Homo sapiens: one gene and its partners. The protein of the gene in region 1 purifies or fractionates together with the protein of each later gene. This does not show direct contact. Each region holds a gene or a part of one and is shown in the gene's direction. Other genes may lie near its edges.

What was found.
Region 2: the proteins of TNFSF13B (region 1) and PDSS1 purify together in Homo sapiens (affinity purification with mass spectrometry; 3 studies listed by BioGRID and IntAct, with this or other methods). This does not show direct contact.
Region 3: the proteins of TNFSF13B (region 1) and XPO4 purify together in Homo sapiens (affinity purification with mass spectrometry; 4 studies listed by BioGRID and IntAct, with this or other methods). This does not show direct contact.
Region 4: the proteins of TNFSF13B (region 1) and IPO11 purify together in Homo sapiens (affinity purification with mass spectrometry; 4 studies listed by BioGRID and IntAct, with this or other methods). This does not show direct contact.

What each region holds. Positions count from the first base shown.
Region 1 is NC_000013.11:108,271,914-108,277,211, forward strand, and holds part of TNFSF13B (tumor necrosis factor ligand superfamily member 13B), read left to right. Parts: intron 1-5,298. UniProt on the Homo sapiens protein: Cytokine that binds to TNFRSF13B/TACI and TNFRSF17/BCMA. TNFSF13/APRIL binds to the same 2 receptors. Together, they form a 2 ligands -2 receptors pathway involved in the stimulation of B- and T-cell function and the regulation of humoral immunity.
Region 2 is NC_000010.11:26,724,306-26,729,148, forward strand, and holds part of PDSS1 (all trans-polyprenyl-diphosphate synthase PDSS1), read left to right. Parts: intron 1-4,843. UniProt on the Homo sapiens protein: Heterotetrameric enzyme that catalyzes the condensation of farnesyl diphosphate (FPP), which acts as a primer, and isopentenyl diphosphate (IPP) to produce prenyl diphosphates of varying chain lengths and participates in the determination of the side chain of ubiquinone.
Region 3 is NC_000013.11:20,797,799-20,802,641, reverse strand, and holds part of XPO4 (exportin-4), read left to right. Parts: intron 1-1,651; coding exon 1,652-1,811; intron 1,812-2,316; coding exon 2,317-2,486; intron 2,487-3,302; coding exon 3,303-3,477; intron 3,478-4,843. UniProt on the Homo sapiens protein: Mediates the nuclear export of proteins (cargos), such as EIF5A, SMAD3 and isoform M2 of PKM (PKM2). In the nucleus binds cooperatively to its cargo and to the GTPase Ran in its active GTP-bound form.
Region 4 is NC_000005.10:62,410,697-62,416,010, forward strand, and holds the start of IPO11 (importin-11), read left to right. Parts: upstream 1-2,066; 5' UTR 2,067-2,233; intron 2,234-5,314. UniProt on the Homo sapiens protein: Functions in nuclear protein import as nuclear transport receptor. Serves as receptor for nuclear localization signals (NLS) in cargo substrates.

The sequences.
Region 1 (5,298 bases):
TGAAATTATATATTCAATATAAAATTCATATAGTGGAATATCTGAGCTAGGGAGAAGAAACATCTTCATCACCCTTGCTTCCGACTGCCATATTGTTTTCAAAATGAGTTATACATGCAATCAAAAATGTGGTGTACCGGTTCTCCACATTCTTGCTTGCATGTTATTTTTAAAGTGTATTTTGACTAGTTTAGTAGTTGTAAAACAATATCTCACATTTATTTTGATGTGTTGCTTGTTTACTAATATGAATAAACTTTCTGCATATTTTGATTATTTATAATTTTATCTTTTGCTAATTTTTATTTATAACTGTCTCCACTTGTCTGTCCCATGTTTTTATAATTTTGGATAAGCTCTTCCTAATTAGACATATTGATAATTGATCAAAATTTTGATGTAAATATTTTAACAGTTTTGCTTCTTTTTTTACTTGAACATTTTGCATTTCTCTATAGTAAAGTGATAATCTTTAAAAAATTTTCCCTAATATTAAAGCTAAAAATACATTTGTTCATGTTTTCTTAAGTAGTTGACTCCCTGCCACTTTGACTTTTTCATAGTTGAGTGTTTTGTTTTAACTCATTAGTCCTTCTGTTGTTTATTTTGATGAATCATCTCACATTGGCTTTAACTTCCCCCTCTCTCTTTTTTCCTTTCTAACTGGTATCTCAACCAAATGTATTAAATAGTTCTTTTTAACTCCTTGGTGTTGAAAAGCTTACTGTGTTTTATTAAGTTCCTCATAAGAGTTGAATCTATTTGAGACTCTTTTTTTTAATTGATTATTCTATTTATATGCTTTAAAGAATATTTTTAAGGTAATTTGTATTATAAGAGGCTTCAATAACTAGTAGGGTCAGGATCCTTCAATCTCCTTAACCTTCACTGCTAATATCCCCGTTTCTAAATATTAGTTTTAAAAATAAACTTTAACTTTACAATTAAAAAAAAAGATGTAGACTCATTTCAGCAGATTTAAGAAGAAAAGAATAATAGAGTAGGAAAGAAATAACTTCTTGGGTCACATTTTCCCAAAATTCTCCTATTAATACTTTTATGTATTTGTGTTTTAATGGCATCCAGGAATAGTATACTGATGAGAATCTTTCACCAAATAATTTGCAATTTGTAGATTCTAACAAAGTGAAAAAAAATTTGCCCAGATTTCCACAGCCCAGAAGTAGCTACTATTATTATTTCATGGTTTGCCCTAGACTTTTTAATAAACCTTAATACAGTGTGCATATAGGTATATATTGCACACAGTTGAGCCTTGAACAACACAAGTTTTAACAGCATGGATACACTTACAGGTGGATTTTTTTTTTCAATAAACCTATTGGAAAATTATCTGTAGATTTGTGATAATTTGAAAAAACTCATGGAAGAACTGTGTATCTTTGAAATGTTGAAAATATTAAGATTAATTAGCCATGTCATGAATGTATAAAATATATGTAGATACTGGTCTATTTTCTTATTACTATCATAAAATATACACAAAAGTTAAAAATTCTCAAAACATATGCATACAAACAGACTGTACATAGCGCCCTTTGTAGTCTAGAGAAATGGAAACAAACATAAACATGCAGTATTAAGTCATCACTGCATAAAATTAACTGTGGTACATACTGTACTACTGTAATAATTTCATAGCCACCTCCTGTTGCTACTGCAGTGAGCTCAAGTGCTGTGAGTATCTGCTTAAAACACCATGTGATGCTAATCATCTCTGCATGAGCCAGTTGTATCTCCAATCAGTTGGATATTGCAGTAAAAATGATTTCTCATGATTTGTGTGTATTTTTCTTCTTGTGTAATGCAATATCATAAACCTTGAATAACACCATGAGACCTATAGAAAATGCGATAGTGATGCTGGAAATGCTCCCAGGAAGCAAAGAAGAGTCATGACATTATAGTTGACCCTTGAACAACACAGGTTTGAACCGCGAGGGTCCCCTTGTATGTGGATTTTCTTCCACTTTCCACCCTTGAGATAGCAAGACCAACGCCTCCTTTCCCTCCTCCCCCTTAGCTTACTCAATGTGAAGAATGAAGAACTCTATAATGATCCACTTCCACTTAATGAATAGTAAATGCATTTTCTCTTCCTTATGATTTTTTAAAATAACATTTTCTTTTCTCTAGCTTATTTTATTGTAAGAATACACTACATAATACATATAATTTATGAAATGCGTATTGATTGAGTTTTTGTTATCAGAAAGGCTTCTGGTCAACAGTGGGCTGTTAGTAATTAAGATTTGGGAGTCAAAAGTTAAGCACAAAGTTTTGACTGCATGGGGTCAGTGACCCTAATTCCTGTGTTGTTCAAGGATCAACTGTATTTGTTCATATACATATGAACAATACATATGAACAATACATATATGAACAAATACATATATTTATACAAATATATGTACAAATATATACACATACAAATATATATATATATACATATATATACATACATAGTGTGCATATGTGTTATGTGTATATATTCAAATAGGACATAGTATACACACTCATAACTTTCACAAATCCAAGGTGGAAGATTTGAAGATAAGAATCTTAATGACATCATGTCTACTATTCCTTGTTAATAAAATTAGGAAATTCATTTGAATGTTGTTCTAGATACTATTCTTTGGTGGAGGGAAAGTTTATTTTATTTAGCATACTCCAAAATTAATGTTTATATTCCCAAAAAAGTTGTCTGTAACACAAGGACGTTTTTTAGTAGGAATTTTTTGGCATTGAGAAAATTCTATGCAGCTTTCTTTGATTTTTGTTTTCATTCAAGTTCTGATTTATTTTCAGTAAGACTCAAAACCTTAAGTTGTCCTTTTTACTTTTAAAGTGTTTATTTATGTTCATATTTATTAATTGTCTACATGTTTTAGAACCAAGTATTTTTATTGGAACTTCACACAAACTGTAGAAGAAGGGAGGGGAATTACCATCAGCCAACATGTCCCAATGATACTCTCTTCCAGGCATCCCATGGGTAAACAGTGGTTTTACTTAATGTTTTAATTTTAGAATTTAGTACTTTGGCTTTAGTTTTGTTTTTCTTAATTACTTTGTGTTTCAAACCAAAATCTCATTAAGCTTAATGTATTTCATAATATCATTTTTGATTGTAGTATAATAAACAGAAATGTGGGGAAATCCAGGATTAAAAAATTGCCAAATAGCTCATATTAGCCAAAAATTCACTTTTAAGCCCGTAACTGTGTTTGGAGATATTCCCAATTTAAAAATTAACTAAAACAATATGGCTTTGAAAATATTACGTAATAAAATTTATTTACAAATGGAATCATGAAGATCCACATTTTGAACATCACTTAACTATAATTTTATTAATTTTAAGAACCTAAAGATGAATGTCTTTAGAGTCTATCAAGAAAGTGAATTCTTTCAAATGGGTATCACTGACCTAAAAAGGTTCATTGTTAAAATTAGGTAACCATTGTATTTTCTTTCCTGTTAATTAATAACTATTAGAAATTTATGTGTTTTAGGATACAGAAAGACAAAATTATTTTTATTGATAATGTTTATTATAATTGTCTCAATTTTAATAATAAAATAATAGTAAAAATATGGACAATTCAAAGTAATGTAAAGCAAGAATAGAAAAAATTGTCCGTATTTCACCTTCCAAATAATTATCATGAGATTTTTGGTCAATCTACTTTAAGGTATATTTTTCTTCATTTTTAAGTGAGCTTGGGATTGTTTAAGAATTACACACAGCTTGCAAAGAATACAGTGTGTTGGCATGTACCCCTATCCAGCTTCCCTAATACTAACATCTTATATGAACATGGTATTTCATTACAAAAAGGAAACCAACATTAAGACTTAACTATTAGCTAAATTCTAGACTTAATTTGAATTTCACGAGTTTTTCTACTAATGATTTTATGTTTTAGGATCCATCAGGATATCACATTGTATTTAACATTTTTTAAATTAAAATTTTGAATGTAGCATATATAAACACCAAATATTATACCTTAAGTTTTCTATCGGATAAACCTTTCTAATTGCTAAAAGTGAAGATATCAATACTATTTTTGAGTCTTCTTTTTTGAAATCCAAAGTCCAACTCCTTTGCAAGGAAAGATGAGATGTTTGACAAGTCTGTAATGTCCAGTCTTTGCCCGGTTGGCATTTCTGGCTTAGCTGTGAGTTCCAGGCTGTAACATGAGTGTTGGAAGCGTGCAATGTAGAACTTGACCATCCAGCCCTTATCAAAATTAGGCTGACTTGAGCCTCTTACCCAGCAAGGGTGTGTTCCTTCGTGGAACAGAACCAGCTGGCTGCTGCTTAGGCGATCTTTGACCAGAGCTTTCCCTGAGAGTTATTTTTTCTTTCCCCCTGCTTCAATAGTGAGACTTTTCTTCAGTGTTGCAAGAACTGGCTTCTGTTCAACTTCTGGAAAAGCATTTAAAATTGAAAACGTTGACCTTCCAACCAAATCTTTGACCTGTTCTTGTTAAGCTTGAGATTTTGGGAAACGGAAGAGCTAGGAAACAAATCAGTCAACACAGCCAAATGTGATATTGTGTCTCTTTTACACAATCTTACATTATCGTGAGTTGAAGAGAAACAGAAAAATGATAGTACATATAGTTAATTAGCAAATTAAAATACAAAAAAATGGTAAATATGTTGAAAAAGTGAAAAGGTTAGGGCAGGTGAATGAGTATCAGGAATGTGAAGGGTGAGGAAGGGAAAGAAATGCGTTTTCATTTTGAATGGAGAGGCCAGGTTCATTAAGCCTTTTTATCTTTTCTTGAAAGCTCAATAATTCTTTATACTTTTGACTATTTTTTTTAACATTGCAGACATGGGTAGGTGATTTTTAAAATAAATTCAAAATGTTTATACCTGTGTTGTTTTTATTAGTAATTCCATATGAATGGAAAATGTTAGTTTTAATGCTTATTCTTTTTATAGATCAACTCCTACTTAAAAGAACTGCATTGAGCAGCTGCATTTTTGTTGTGGTGATATTTTTTTTTTAAAAGACATTCCCATTTCTGAAGAGTTAGAGAAACAGAAGGTTTCTCTTCAAATAGATTTATCACCCACTGTTTCTGCAAATATCTGAGGTAGGCACTCCATAATATACAGAGAAGAGGACAGCGAAGCTAACAATTATCAGGCGTGTTTCATGTGCAAACACTGTGTTGGGCTCTGGGAATGTATATCATTTACTTTCTCAACAACTCTGTTAGTTGGGCATTATTGTTTTCATTTTAGATGAGAAAG
Region 2 (4,843 bases), on another chromosome or scaffold:
TCTTCTTTTGGTATGCAGGCGTTGACTTTTCATCTTTTCTTCCCAAGAATTCAATCAAAATAAGCTTTCCCGCACCTTCCCCAATCTGATTGCCAAACTGTATCATTTTGAACAATTTATCATAATTTCTCTAATGATTGATATCACACACACTCTTTCTGACACTTCACCTTTTAGAAATGAAGTGCTCTGTTCTTTAATATAATATTTACTCAGGAAAAGATATCTGTTAGATTGTACTAGCATTCTATGAACTTTTTTTTGTTTTTTTGTTTTTTGTGTTTTTTTGAGACAGAGTCTTTTGCTGTGTGGCCCAGGCTACAAAGCAGTGGTGTGATCTTGGCTCACTACAACCTCCACCTCCCAGGTTCAGGCAATTCTCCTGCCTCAGCTTCCCTAGTAGCTGGGACCACAGGTGTGCGCCATCACACCCAGCTAATTTTTGTATTTTTCATAGGGATGGGGGTTTGCCATGTTGGCCGGGCTGGTCTCAAACTCCTGCCCTCAAGTGATCCACCCACCTTGGCCCTGCAAAGTACTGGGATTACAGGCATGAGCCATTGCACCTGGCCAATACATTGCACCTGGCCAATCCTTCTAATATTTTTACATGAAATATAAACAAGTCCTATTTCTTCAGAGTACAAATTGAGTATAAGCCATAACTGTTTTTCCCCTTGCTTTCTCCCTCCCTCCGCTGTGCATACACATGTATACATTTTTTTTTTAATGAGTAATACCTTTAATCCGTAGACAAATGTGTGGTATTCATCGTTAGTCCAAGAATGAAAAGCAGTCTCTCCATAGAATTGTTTATCTGCCCATCTCTAAGCCTGACAGATACACAGAGACAAAACCTGGACAAATGACATTCCCATGTAATTACAGCCACAAAATAAGGAAGACCTGTAAGGGTCGCATGTCAATTGCTGTCATGATAGACTCCTAACATAATTAACAGGTAAAGAGAGCTTTTGCTCAGACCTCTCAGATGAAAAAGTCTCTTGCTGTTAGTGTCTCTGTTTTGAAAAGTGTCAAGAAATGTATAATTGCAAGGCAGAAAAGAATGAGGACAATCTTTTCTTCCTAAAAAGACCTAATAGAAACTTTAAGGAATGTGAATTATGTAGAACATGCTAGCCACAGTCTCGACCACTTTTGTCTTTTTATTAAAAGGGCTATTATGTTTTTATTTCCAAGAAATTATGTGGGTTTTTTTTTTAAAGTGAGATGGAAGAAAGTATAGACACGAGATGCTAAATAAGAGAATAGCCTATTTTAAGTGGGTGCTCTAACACTTTTACAGTAATCCTTTACATATTATCATGCCCTTGATGGCCCAACTCTCCCTGAAGGTCAGGATCCATCCTCTTAACACATTAGGGTGCCTTAATATTACTTACTAATATTTATCCTTAAGAGGATGTGTTAAGTGAGGCTCATTGATAATTTCACAATTTGAGACTGCAAACTTAGAAGCATTAGCATGGTCAGGCAAGGTGGCTCACACCTGTAATCCCAGCATTTAGGGAGACTGAGGCGGAAGGTTTGCTTGTGACCAGAAGTTCAAGACCAACCTAGGCAACATAGCAAGATCCCCATCTCTACTTAAAAATAATGTTTAAAAAATAAAGTCTTAGAAGCATTAGTAGTAGTGAGACTATTGGAATTGGAAACACCAAGACTTACTGTCTGCACCATGCAGACATCCTGCAGGCACGGGGTGGGGCGGCACCAAATTGGAGCTAGCACAGAAATTCACTCAGTGATGGAAGCTTACAAAGGGTCCAAAGAAATGGACCTGAGTCATGATAGAGAGGTTTCCTTGTGGTCACTGTTTTCTGTTTAAGAAGCCAAAGATAATGCACAGGAATTCTTTTATAAAGATATGCACCTCATTCTTCAAAGATTAGCAGCTGAACGAACAGTGAACATGTTAACGTGGCTGGACCCTTATTAAAAATGAAATGTTTCATGCTGCCCACTAGGGGGCATGCTGGCATCGTCCCAGCACTACCTCCTTTTCATGTGGTTTATTCCTAAACTCCACAGCTCTTAGAATAATAAAGCAAAATGATAGTGTGAGCTATTTGAATAAAAGTTTCTATATTTAAGTGCCTATGGGTGGAAATATTCCAGAGGTGTTATGGATTCAAAATGGCTATTTTTACGTACTCTTGGTATTTAAAATGCAAAGCCATGCGAGCTCCAAATAAATGCATGCAAAGCAAATTAGACACACCAAAAAGAGGGGAGGAGGAGAACTGAAAGAGCAGAATTATTACAGAAGAAGAACTAATGGGATTGCAAAATGTATTGAGAATTGGAGGGAAACTTACAAGCTGCATTCTACTAAGGATACCATTTCTTCATCTCCCTTCCTTTTTTTAGTGAAAATAATATTAAAATCTAAGAGAGGGCTGTCTAGGGGGATTGTTTTGTGATTGACTGATATTAAAATAGAATCCATTTTAGGCCGGGCACGGTGGCTCACACCTGTAATCCTAACACTTTAGGAGGCCGAGGCGAGTGGATCACTTTAGTCCAGGATTTCAAGACCAGCCTGGCCAACATGGCAAAACCCCGTCTGTACTAAAAATACAAAAATTAGCCGGGCGTGGTGGTGCACGCCTGTAATGCCAGCTACTTGGGAAGCTGAGGCAGGAGAACCGCTTGAACCCGGGAGGTGGAGGTTGCAGTGAGCCAAGATCACTCCACTGCATTCCAGCCTGGGCAATAGAGCGAGAGTCTCTCAAAAAAAAAACAAACAAACCAGAATTCATGTTATTATCAAAAGATGACTTATTTATTTACATACTTACTCACTTGCAAAATACATTTTGTACTCATGCAAAATACATTTTGTAGTTTACTAATAAAGACAGTGGCTTGTTTCCCAGGAAATCTGGTGGAAATGAGACCTGAGAGGTCAGAGGGCCTGTCCAGTTGTTGTTAAGCCAGACAGTAGCTGAGTTGAGACTTGAACCCAGAGCTGGGTATGGTAATCCTGCCTTGTTTCTCTCTCTCTCTCTCTCTTTTTTTTTTTTTTTCTGAATTTCTATTTTCTCCAGGGCTGCTTGTGGCCTGGAATTAATGGGCTCTCTTCCTATTACTTGATTTTCAAAGCCTCAGAGTACCACTACAGAATTGCATATTGTGGGTCACATTAGCAGAACACTCTTTTTTTTTTTTTTTAATTCATTTTTTTGAGATGGAGTCTCGCTCTGTTGCCCAGGCTGGAGCGCAGTGGCATGATCTCAGCTCACTGCAACCTCCACCTCCCAGGTTCAAGTGATTCTCCCACCTCAGCCTCCCGAGTAGCTGGGATTACAGGTGCACACCACCACATGCCACACCTGGCCTCTTTTTTTTTTACAATATTCATATCTATCTATAGGCCTCATTCAGATCTTGCCAGTTGTGAACTGTTATAACGAAAGGGAAAACATATTTTTCTGTTCCAGCATCCAGTCCAGGATTTCACGTTGCATTTTGCTGTCATGACTCTGTAGTCTCTTGTCATCTAGAACAGTCTTTCTTTGCCTCTCATTACCTTGGTATTTGGAAGAGTGCAGGCCAGTTATGTTGTTGAGCCTCTCAGTCGGGCTTCTCTGATACTTCTCAAGATTCGATCCAGGTTATGAATATTTGGCAGGAATACCACAAGAGCGGTGCTGTCCTCAGCTCCTCATACCAGGAGGCGCGTGCTGTCTTGTCTGTCCCATTACTGGTGATGCATGCCTGGATCGCTTGATTAGGATACTGTCGGGCCGGGCACAGTGGCTCACGCCTGTAATCCCAGCACTTTGGAAGGCCGAGGTGGGCAGATTACCTGAGGTCAAGAGTTCAAGACCAGCCTGGCCAACATGGTAAAACCCCATCTCTACTAAAATTATAAAAAATTAGCTGGGCATGGTGGCGGGCACCTGTAATCTCAGCACTTTGGGAGGCCGAGGCAGGTAGATCACCTGAGGTCAAGAGTTTGACAAGCGTGGCCAACATAGTGAAACCATGTCTCTACTAAAAATACAAAAATTAGCCGGGCGTAGTGGCAGGCGCCTATAATCCCAGCTACTCTGGAGGCTGATACAGGAGAATTGCTTGAATCCGGGAGGCGGAGGTTGCAGTGAGCCGAGATTGCACCATTGCACTCAAGCCTGGGCAACAAGAGTGAAACTCCATCTCAAAAAAAAAAGATACTGTCTGCCAGGTTTCTTCAATCTAAAATTACTATTTTAACCTATTTTGGGCAAAGTATTTTCAGATTATGTAAATATTATTCTGATGGTTGTCAAATGGCTGTTTTTCTATTTTCATCATTTCTTCTATATCACTCTTCTACAAGAAAGTTGGTATCCTATTTTTTTTGTTATTATTATTTCATTCTCAAAAGAGCTGAAGAGTTGGTATTCCATTGTAAGGAAGCTCTTAACTGTATGGGCTCTTGGATTCTTATTTTATTCTGTATCTTTTTTTTTTTTTTTTTTTTTTGAGCCAGGGTATCACTCTGTCACCCACGCTGGAGTGCAGTGGTGCAATCTCAGCTCACTGCAACCTCCACCTCCCGGGCTCAGGTGATCCTCCCACCTCAGCCTCCTGAGTAGCTGGGATTACATGCGGCTGCCACCATACCCGGATGACTTTTTTGTATTTTTAGTAGAGACGGGGTTTTGCCATTTTGCCCAGGCTGGTCTCAAACTCCTGGCCTCAAGTGATCGCCCACCTCGGCCTCCCAAAGTGCTGGGATTATAGGCGTGAGTCACCGTGCCCAGCCATCTTATTTTATTCTGTAGATTATAACACTGTCATTATTTTAATACTCAATTATCCAACGTATGGCCAG
Region 3 (4,843 bases), about 87 Mb from region 1:
GATAGTGGGTATCAGAATATTGTGATAATAAAACTCCAGTGCATAAATTTAAAGTGTTAATGTAACCATTTTCTTTTGAATTTTGTTAGGCTGGAATAGATATTTAAAATGATTTAATCTTACCAGGAATTTTGACATATCTACAACTTAAATGTATTACTGTACTGGGAGATTGTTGGGGTTTTATTTGTTTGTTTTGTTGTTGTTCATATACCCCCTAAAAAATTTTTTTAAAAAACTCAAACGAGCACTGGTGGTATAGGAAGTGTGCAGACAGTGAAGAAGGTTGGGCATGGTGGTTTATGCCTGTAATCCCAACACTTGGGGAGGCCAAGGTGGGAGGATTGCTTGAGCTCAGGAGTTCAAGACCAGCCTGGGTGACATGACGAAACCCTGTCTTTACAAAAATTTTTTAAATCGGCCTGGTGTAGTAGTGTGTGCCTGTAGTCCCAGCTACTTGGGAAACTCAGGCAGGAGGATCACTTGAACCCAAAAAGTTAAAGCTGCAGTGGACCGTGACTGTGTCTGGGCATACTGCAGCCTGGGTGACAGAGCAACTCTGTCTAAAAAAGAAAAAAAATTAGAAGAGATTCTGGGGTGGAACCTTAAAAACCTCCTGATTTAAAGAAGAAGTTCAGGAGAAGAGGATGCTGCCATGAAGACTGGGAAAGAGGAAGCAGATGGCTAGATGAAGAGAGGAAGGGCAGTGACCCCAGGGAGGCTGCAGGAAGATAAGGGCAGTGACAGTGGGCCATCCAGTGGGGTAAAGAACTGAAACACGTGTGTATGATTTCATGATGAGATCATTTCAGGCTTCCTGAGAGCACTAGTAAAGGAGCATAAGCCGAATTTGAGTGATTAGAATCCTTTTCTCAGCACTGATATTCATTAGTGTGTAATGGGGTCTTTCCATTACCTCCTTTGCTTCCTTGCCTTTTGGCTAAAGTCAGGTTAAATATATATCACTTCTGATTATGTGCCCTCCTCAACAAAGACATTTCTGTTTGTCTGCATGTCACGCTATGTGATTGACACCACACGACCATATGAATTATGTAGTGTAGGAAAGGACAATATGTGTACTTACACAGGTAATCTTTCTAGCAAGAGTTTTATTTAAAAATACCATGAAGAATCAAGTTTACTAGGAAATATTGGATTTAAACAAGGCTCAATATTCAAAACTTTCTAAATAATTCCCAGATCTTGTACTGTAACATGACCATGATATAAAAACACAAACTATACTAACCAGGGTAGTTTTAAGTAGTGATGCTAAGTAGTACATGCTAAAAGAGTTTGGCATGTACTCTGAAGATTTAATTTGATGTATTTCTCCTGAAAATCTGAAAATTTTGAATCTGAAAATTCTCTTTAGCTAGTAATGCTGATATTCACACATGTGGTTACAACTTCAGCAGAAGGACATCTCTAGTGTTGACTCTTCCTTTCCTTATCTTGTCTCCTGCTTCGTGAAAGATCAGAAATAATATGGGACAGTTGTCTAAAACTCTGTAGATGAAATGTTCAAGTATAGCCTGACCTAAATCCAGAGAACTGAAAGACAAAAAAGGACTTTTAAGGAAAAAAATATGATTAGACAGCAACTAAATAAATAAAAGAATAAATGACTTCTGTTTTATACCTACAGGCTGTTGTCTGCCATTCTCAGAGTTTCAGAAGTTGAATCTCGAGCAATAAGAGCAGATCTCACTCATCTACTAAGTCCCCAGATGGGCAAAGATATTGTTTGGTTTTTAAAACGCTGGGCAAAGACTTATCTCCTGGTGGATGAAAAACTGTATGATCAGGTCAGAATGTAAAACTTAAAACTTCATTTGGATTTATGATGATAGCAGTTATAGAAGCAGGAACATTTTTCTTGGTGGTTTTTCATCAAAATAGAACTGTTTAAGAGCAGTTTAACATTTTCTGTGTGGAAGAGAATTATGTGACTGGAATGCTGTTTTAATGTGTTTTTGAGCACATCCCTTGATATCGTTTATTTTAACTGCTGTTGAAGATACAGATTATTATTTGGGAATAGATTATGCTTTTTTGTATTTGGTTTAATACTATGTTAATTTTTTAATACTATGGGAATAATAGAAGTTGACGGGAAAATCACACTGGAAAATGTGAGTGGATTGAGGATGTCTTTTTTTTTGACCAGTGGAAATGAGTACATGTGTAAAGTTGATGTGAAGTAAGCACTACTTCAGATTAGATACTAATTTCAGTTCGATTTTTCTCTGTTTTTTTTTTCTTGAGTTGATCTTTCTTGCTTACCTTAAAAAATTTGTTTCCTCTCTTAAGATAAGTCTGCCATTCAGTACAGCGTTCGGAGCAGATACAGAGGGTTCTCAGTGGATAATTGGCTACCTCTTACAAAAAGTCATCAGTAACCTCTCAGTCTGGAGTAGTGAGCAGGACCTTGCAAATGACACTGTGCAGCTCCTTGTCACTTTGGTGGAAAGAAGAGAAAGGTTAGCCCATTGTTGGAGGCTGACTGTGTGTGTATGTGTGTGGGTGAGAAACTCTTTTTCACTTCTTAGTGTAGTCCTTTGAACTGGCAAATGGTTACACGGTCCTAATTCCAGATAGAGCCTACATTTTTGGAGTAATGGGTTTTAAAAACTATGTCACAGTACTATTACAAATGCAAATGGAGCTTTCCCATCTTATAATTGAGCATTACATTGACTCCTTCAGGATTTGGCATCAAAGCCCTATGAGTAACACATTAGTAATTTATCGTGTTGCAAACACTTTTATGTGGAATATGCTCATTTGAATTTTTAGACATCCCCATTTTAAAGATTAAATACTGATATTTAAAATTTAATGTTGGAAAGTAAAATTTTTAGTGCTTTCTACAACAATTCTAGAAATGTTTTCGTTGTTCTTACTGTATAGGAGTATCATTGTTATTATTACCATTGTCATTGTCTGGTTTATTGAATTCTTATAATTTACTATGTACTCTTCTAAGCATGTCATAGGTAGTATCTCATTTAATCATTATATCAGTCTCAGCCCCAGGAGACTGTTATTATTCCTATTTTGCAGATTATAGAGAAGTGATGATTGATAGAGGTTAAATAAATTTTACATCACCAGACAACTAGTGGGATTTGAATGTAAGCCTGTGACTTCAAAGTCTATACTAAGTTTACTGTACTTTGCTTTAACAGTAATTAAATCTAGTTATTTTTTATTTTTGTTTTCTTTGTGTGTATATGTGTATGTGTGTATGTATATACATAGTAATACATCTTATGTTTTGTTATTTCTACCTGTAGGGCAAACTTAGTAATTCAATGTGAGAACTGGTGGAATTTAGCTAAGCAGTTTGCAAGCCGAAGCCCACCTCTTAATTTCTTGTCAAGTCCTGTGCAGAGGACATTGATGAAGGCTCTAGTCTTAGGAGGTTTTGCACATATGGACACAGAAACCAAACAGCAGTATTGGACAGAGGTAACAGTGCTGTCTATTTTGATTGCACCCTTTTGTGTAACTCTGTAGTTCCTTTATCTATGCGTTGCCGTAAGAGTCTCTGGAGACATAAATGTATCAGTCATAGCTTTTCTTTCTTTCTTTCTTTCTTTTTTTTTTTTTTCTGAGATAGGGTCTTACTCTGTTGCCCAGGCTGGAGTACAGTGGTGCAGTCTCAGCTCATTGCAGCCTCTACCTCCCAGGTTCAAGCGATTCTCCTGCCTCAGCCTCCCAAGTGGCTGGGACTACAGACTCATGCCACCATACCCAGCTAATTTTTGTTTTTTTTAGTAGAGACGGGCTTTTGCCATGTTGGCCAGGCTGGTCTCGAACTCCTGGCCTCAAGCAATCTGCCCGCCTTGGCCTCCCAAAGTGCTGGGATTACAGATGTGACCAGCCACTGTGCCCGGCCCAGTCATAGCTTTTCTGATATTTTTTCTCCTAATGAATGGGTTGAAGCTTCTTATTTTACAAATGTTGTCTTATAATTTTTCTGTACCTGCCTGTGTGTGATGACATTGAATATTATCAAGTGTTCTGCATTTTAGGCACATTTTTCACAACTCAGTCGAGAGCATGGACTGGCTTATTAAATTTTCATTAGGGATCAGGGAAATATTCTCCTGTCTTGAATAAGATGCAGATTAACCATGATATTCATTTCCTAGGGCTGCTCTAACAAAATACCACAACAGAAATTTGTTTTCTCCTACTTCTGGAGGCTAGAAGTCCAAGCTATAAGGTGTCCATGGGATTTGTTCTTTCTGAAGGCTATGAGGGAAAATCTGTAGCCTCTGGTAGCTTGCTGGCAGTCTTTGGCATTCCTTGATTTGTAAACGCATCACCCTGATCCCTGCCTTCATCTTCACATGCTCCCCCTGTGTGTGTCTGCATCCACACTTCCCCTTTCTATATCAGTTATATTGAACTAGGGGCCCACCCTATTCCGGTATGACCTCATCTGAACTAATTACATCTATGACAACCCTATTTTCTTTTTTTTTGAGACGGAGTCTTGCTCTGTCACTCAGGCTGGAGTGCAGTGGTGTGATCTTGGCTCACTGCAACCTCCACCTCCTGGGTCAAGCGACTCTCCTGTCTCAGCCTCCTAAGTAGGTGGGATTACAGGTGCGCACCACCATGCCTGGCTAATTTTTGTATTTTTAGTAGAGACGGGGTTTTGCCATGTTGGCCAGGCTGGTCTCCTGACCTCAAGTGATCCGCCCACCTCAGCCTTCCAAAACGTTGGGATTACAGGTGTGAGCCACTGCATCCGGCCAACTCTATTATCAAATAAGTTCATATCCTGGGGTTTGGATTTCCACATATGAGTTTTTGAGGAACACAG
Region 4 (5,314 bases), on another chromosome or scaffold:
TCTGTCGCTTAGGCTGGAGTGCAGTGGTGCGAACTCGGCTCACTGCAACCTCCGCCTCCCGGCCTCAAGCGATTCTTCTGTCTCAGTCTCCTGAGTAGCTGGGATTACAAGCGCATGCCACCACGCCAGGCTAATTTTTGTAGTTTCAGTAGAGACAGGGTTTCACCATGTTGGCCAAGCTGGTCTTGAACTCCTGACCTCAGGTGACCTGTCCGTCTTGGTCTCCCAAAGTGCTGTGATTACAGGTGTGAGCCACTGTGCCCGACCTCAACATAATTTTAAATGGTCAATTTGTATTTTATTATGTATGGATGTATTGTGATTTAATCATTTGTGTCATTGGTGGTTGTTTAGGTAATTTTATCTTTTTACTTTAAAAAACAGCCCTTGTGTGATCGACATTCTTGGAATGCAGAGCTTGGTTCAAATCCTAACATGGCCTTTTACTAGCTGTTTGACGTTAGGTGGGCTACTTGACTTCTCTGTGCTTCAGTTTCTTCATCTGTGAAGTGGACATAAAGAAAATACCTACCTCATAAGGGTTGTTCTGAGGATTAAAATAGATAATTCCCATAAAGATCTTAAAACTGTACCTGGAATATTCTAAATTAGCAATAAAGGTTTTCTATTATTAATATTTTTGAACACTCTATTTCCTTACAACTTCTTTTACTATTATTATTATTATTTTGAGACGGAGTTTTGCTCTTATTGCCCAGGCTGGAGTGCAATGGCGCGATCTCGCCTCACTGCAACCTTTGCCCCCAGGGTTCAAGCGATTCTCCTACCTCAGCCTCCCGAGTAGCTGGGATTACAGGGGTGCACCATCATGCCCAGCTAATTTTTTATATTTTTAGTAGAGATGGGGTTTCTCCTTGTTGGTCAAGCTGGTCTCGAACTCCTGACCTAAGGTGATCTGCCCGCCTCGGCCTCCCAAAGTGCTGGGATTACAGGCGTGAGCCACTGTGCCTGGCCTTACTATTATTATTTTTAAGAAATATATAGTTGGTGTGTATTTTTAATTAATTTATTTATTTTGAGACGGAGTCTATTTATTTATTTATTTATTTATTTGTTTATTTATTTTGAGACGGAGTCTCGCTCTGTTGCCCAGGCTGGAGTGCAGTGGAGCAATCTTGGCTCACTGCAACCTCTGCCTCCAGGGTTCAAGCGATTCCCCTGCCTCAGCCTCCTGAGTAGCTGGGATTACAGGCGCCCGCCACCGCGCCAGGCTAATTACTGTATTTTTAGTAGAGACAGGGTTTCATCATGTTGGCCAGGCTGGTCTCGAACTTCGGACTTCGTGGTCCGGCCGCCTCAGCCTCCCAAAGTGCCGGGATTACAGGTGTGAGCTACTGTGCCCACCCCTTATTATTTTTGAAATGGGTGTGTGTGTGTGTGTGTGTGTGTGTGTGTGAACTCTCTATATGTCCCAGGTTGGCTTCGAATTCCTGGGCTCAAGTGATCCTCCTGCCTCCATATCTGGAGTAGCTGGGACTACAGGCGCGCGCCACTGCGCCTGAGTAAGTTCTCTTTTTAAGGATAAGAAAATTTAGGTGACTATGCTAGCTTTTAGCAGAGGCAAGCAGAACTGGATTTATGTCCTTTTACATTTTTCCACTCTTGCTATTACTCAGGAGTAAGCGCCAAGCAATTTGGGTAACTTAAAAAATAAATATTTGCGGGAGGGAGGGTGGACTGATGGGAGTAAGATTCTTTAAATAACTCTTCTCTGCTGTGACGGATCCGCTATTGATATCTAGAATATAAAGCGTGAAATGGTTCTGATTGAAGCTTCAATCAACGCAGGAAACAATTGAGCTCCCTGGGAGTCGGAGAAACCAGACCTATGGTTTCCATGGTGACAGATCCGGCTAGTCCGGACTCCTGGCTCTTTATACTGCGCAAGCGCACTGCGCAAGCGCACACAACTGATTTGGATACCCCGCGCCTTTTGGTTCAAAGACAAAGCCCCTCCTTCCCCTTCCCGCCGTTCGCCTATCGCCTTCTCTCTCTGCCGGTCGCATGCGCGCTGGTCTCCTGTGACGTAGTTTTCGCGCGTCCGCGTCGTTTGGAGCTGCGACGCCAAACATGGCGTGTTCCTAGAAGCCGCTTTCGGCATCAGTAGGCGGCGGCGTGGGGTCTGGCAGCGTGGGGAGAGGGACCAACCGACGCCACTTCGTGTTGGGAAGTGGGAGCGGGAGGGCCGGGCAATTCCCGACCGAACCAAACGGTGAGGCCCCGGCCCGAGAGCCACCGAGCGCGCGGGAGTGGAAGGGAGTGGGTTGGGCACCCGAGTCCCGAGAGGCGGGAGGAAAGTGGGGCTACCAGGAGATGAGGGATAACGGTAGCGAGGCAAGGGCGGCCTGCAGACTTGGCTGTTTGCGCAACCTTAGGAACCCGGGGAACTGGGGGCTGGCCGAGGCAGCCCGGGAGTGGGCAGCATGGTAGTGGAGCAATCAGGGTGCGGGGTGGGAGGGACCGTATGCTAGGCTGAGCAGAGGCGAGTGTACCCATCGTGACCGCGGTTGCGGACCTGGGTGATGCATTTGCCCTTGGGGGATAGGTGGTGCAAATTTTGAGATAAAGTGGTTATCTCGAGTATAAGACCGTTGTGCATTGTTACTGCGCACGCGACCTTGTTGCTAATAGCAATAGTGTGATAGCTTTAAACATTAGACCCTTACATGCTTTTAATGAAAAAGTGAAGGTAGTTGTCCGTTTATAGAGAGGAGCTTCATGGAGAGGTATGGCCGCCAATTCTCAAGCTCAGCGACTCCTGTAGATTTATATTTGGGGGTATTTGTGATTCAGCAAAACTACTTTTGCTTATTACGTGTGTCATTTTTTCTTTATTATTTTGTGACATGTTGGTGAATGAGAGAAGTACTATCTGAAAGTGATTTGACTAAATAGCAAGGACTGGTAAATTACCTACTAGTGCCAAGGTTGCAGTTGACATACCTCCTCCCCTCCATAATTTAAACGAGCTCAGTTGTAGCGCGGTAGTGCCCTTCAGATTTCGGTTATTCTTCAGAAGGAAGAATAGTTTGTAGCCATAATGCTTTTCCCCCTCCTGGGATAGGAATTTTCTTCCTCCATTTTCATGTTATTTCAAACTTCTCTGTTCAGTAGAGGAGCTTCAGATTAAGGGCAGGGTGACTCTTCTATAGGAGACATCCATTGCATGACACATATTACATCTTTCATCACTGAGGAAAATTTCGGTGAAAGTAGAAACATTTTCCCTTTTGGTTATGATGGGACTGGTATTTTCTCTGTTTCTGCAGTAACCTAGCACAGGGTATAGTAGAAACAATTAATTATAGTAGTGGCTTGTGGCCATATATTATAGTCTCAGGGTAGGAGGGTGGTCTCCGCCCTAGTTGAACTTCTAAGGCCAAAGAGAATTTTCACCACAAACACATTTGGCTGTGGTAATGTTAGAGGTTTTAAACAAATATGTAAAGATTATCTGATCATTAATAGAACAATTTTTAGATTTTGTGATGTTTGAATATATTTGCATTTGGAATCAAACCAGAATGCAGCATGATCCTTGTAGGCATGTGGCTATTAAAATACACTGAAGATTTTTCCAGAAACAAAATTTTTTTTTCTCAGCAATAAAAATATTCAAATTTTGGGTAAGGTAATGTTTGATTATTTGGATTTTGACCTTTGTGTTATATATTTGTACCTGTGTGTGTGTATGTATGTAACCTCACTTCTAATTTAGTGTTATTGATGGTAATATTTTTTCCTTTCTTTATCAGCTTCAAATAGGGACTGTTAATTTCAGAGCGTTTAAGGAATGGCAAAACACATTTAGTGCTGGTGTGAGTCTGTAGTGTGTTTGGTTTGCTGACTATCAGACTTATTACAGATAAGTCCACAGTTATAAGCTTTGTAGAGCTTAAGTTGCATCAGTGTTCTTTACCCTTGCTACTCAAATTGTGGTATATAGCATCACCTGGGAGTTTATTAGAAATGCATGATCTCAGGCTCAATCCAGAGCTGCTGAATCAAAATCTGCAATTTTAACAAGTTATCTAGATGAAAGGAATGTTCAATAAATCTTGAGATGCACTACTTTGGTTGGTAACAGTTGAAGAACACTGAGGTAATGCACAAACCGGTATAAAAATTTATAGCATCATTTATTTTAATCTGAGGTGATCTTATGCTGATTATCCAGTCTGATGAAACTGAGGCCCAGAAAGGTAAGTGCCTTGCATAAGGTCACACATACCTAGATTTATAACCCAGATTCCAACTCATTCCAGTGCTTTTCTTTTGCTGGTTACTGTCAGAGCTTGTTATATTAAAAACGGACTAAAATTCATGAATGACAATTAGGTGTTCATTCAATAACAAACGTCTATTGGGTACTGTACAGGCAGCCTAACAATCCTGTGTGTCCCTGCTAACTGCTCCTGTTTATCATGGTGGCTATTAACCCACCACCTTTCCTCTTTATTTTTTTTGAGGCGGGGTCTCACTGTCACCTAGGCTGGAGTGCAGTGGCGTGATCTCTGCTCACTGCATCTTCCGCCTCCCGGGTTCAAGCGGTTCTCCTGCCTCAGCCTCCAGAGTAGCTAGGATTACAGGTGCCTGCCACCAAGCCTGGCTAATTTTTGTATTTTTAGTAGACAGGGTTTCACCATTTTGGCCAGACTGGTCTTGAACTCCTGACCTCCCTGAACTCCACCCACCTTGGCCTCCCAAAGTGCTGGGATTACAGGAGTGAGCCCGGCCCCGTCTTTACTTTTTTTTTTTTTTTTTTTTTGAGATGGAGTTCTGCTCTTTTTGCCCAGGCTGGAGTGCAGTGGCGCGATCTCAATTCACTGCAACCTCCGCCTCCTGGGTTCAAGTGATTCTCCTGCCTCAGCCTCCTGAGTAGCTGGGATTACCGGCATGCACCGCCATGCCCAGCTAATTTTGTATTTTTAGTAGAGACGGGGTTTCTCCATGTTTGTCAGGCTGGTCTCGAACTCTCGACCTCAGGTGATCCCCCTGCCTCAGCCTCCCAAAGTGCTGGGATTACAGGCTTGAGCCACCACGCCCGGCCCCCTCTTTACTCTTTACTGGATAAAGTTCCCTTCTGCTTCATAGAGGAAATGAAATACATTGAGTGGGAACTTCATTGCTTTCTGTTCTGTTTCACCTGCAAACATGAAGACCTCTATCTGTCCATCTCTAATGATATTCTGAGTTTTTTCTCCTTACGGGCAATATTTCCTTCATGTGTTTGCTAGGGCCGCCACAACAAAATACCTTATATTGGGTAGCTTAAACAAGAGAATTTTTTTTC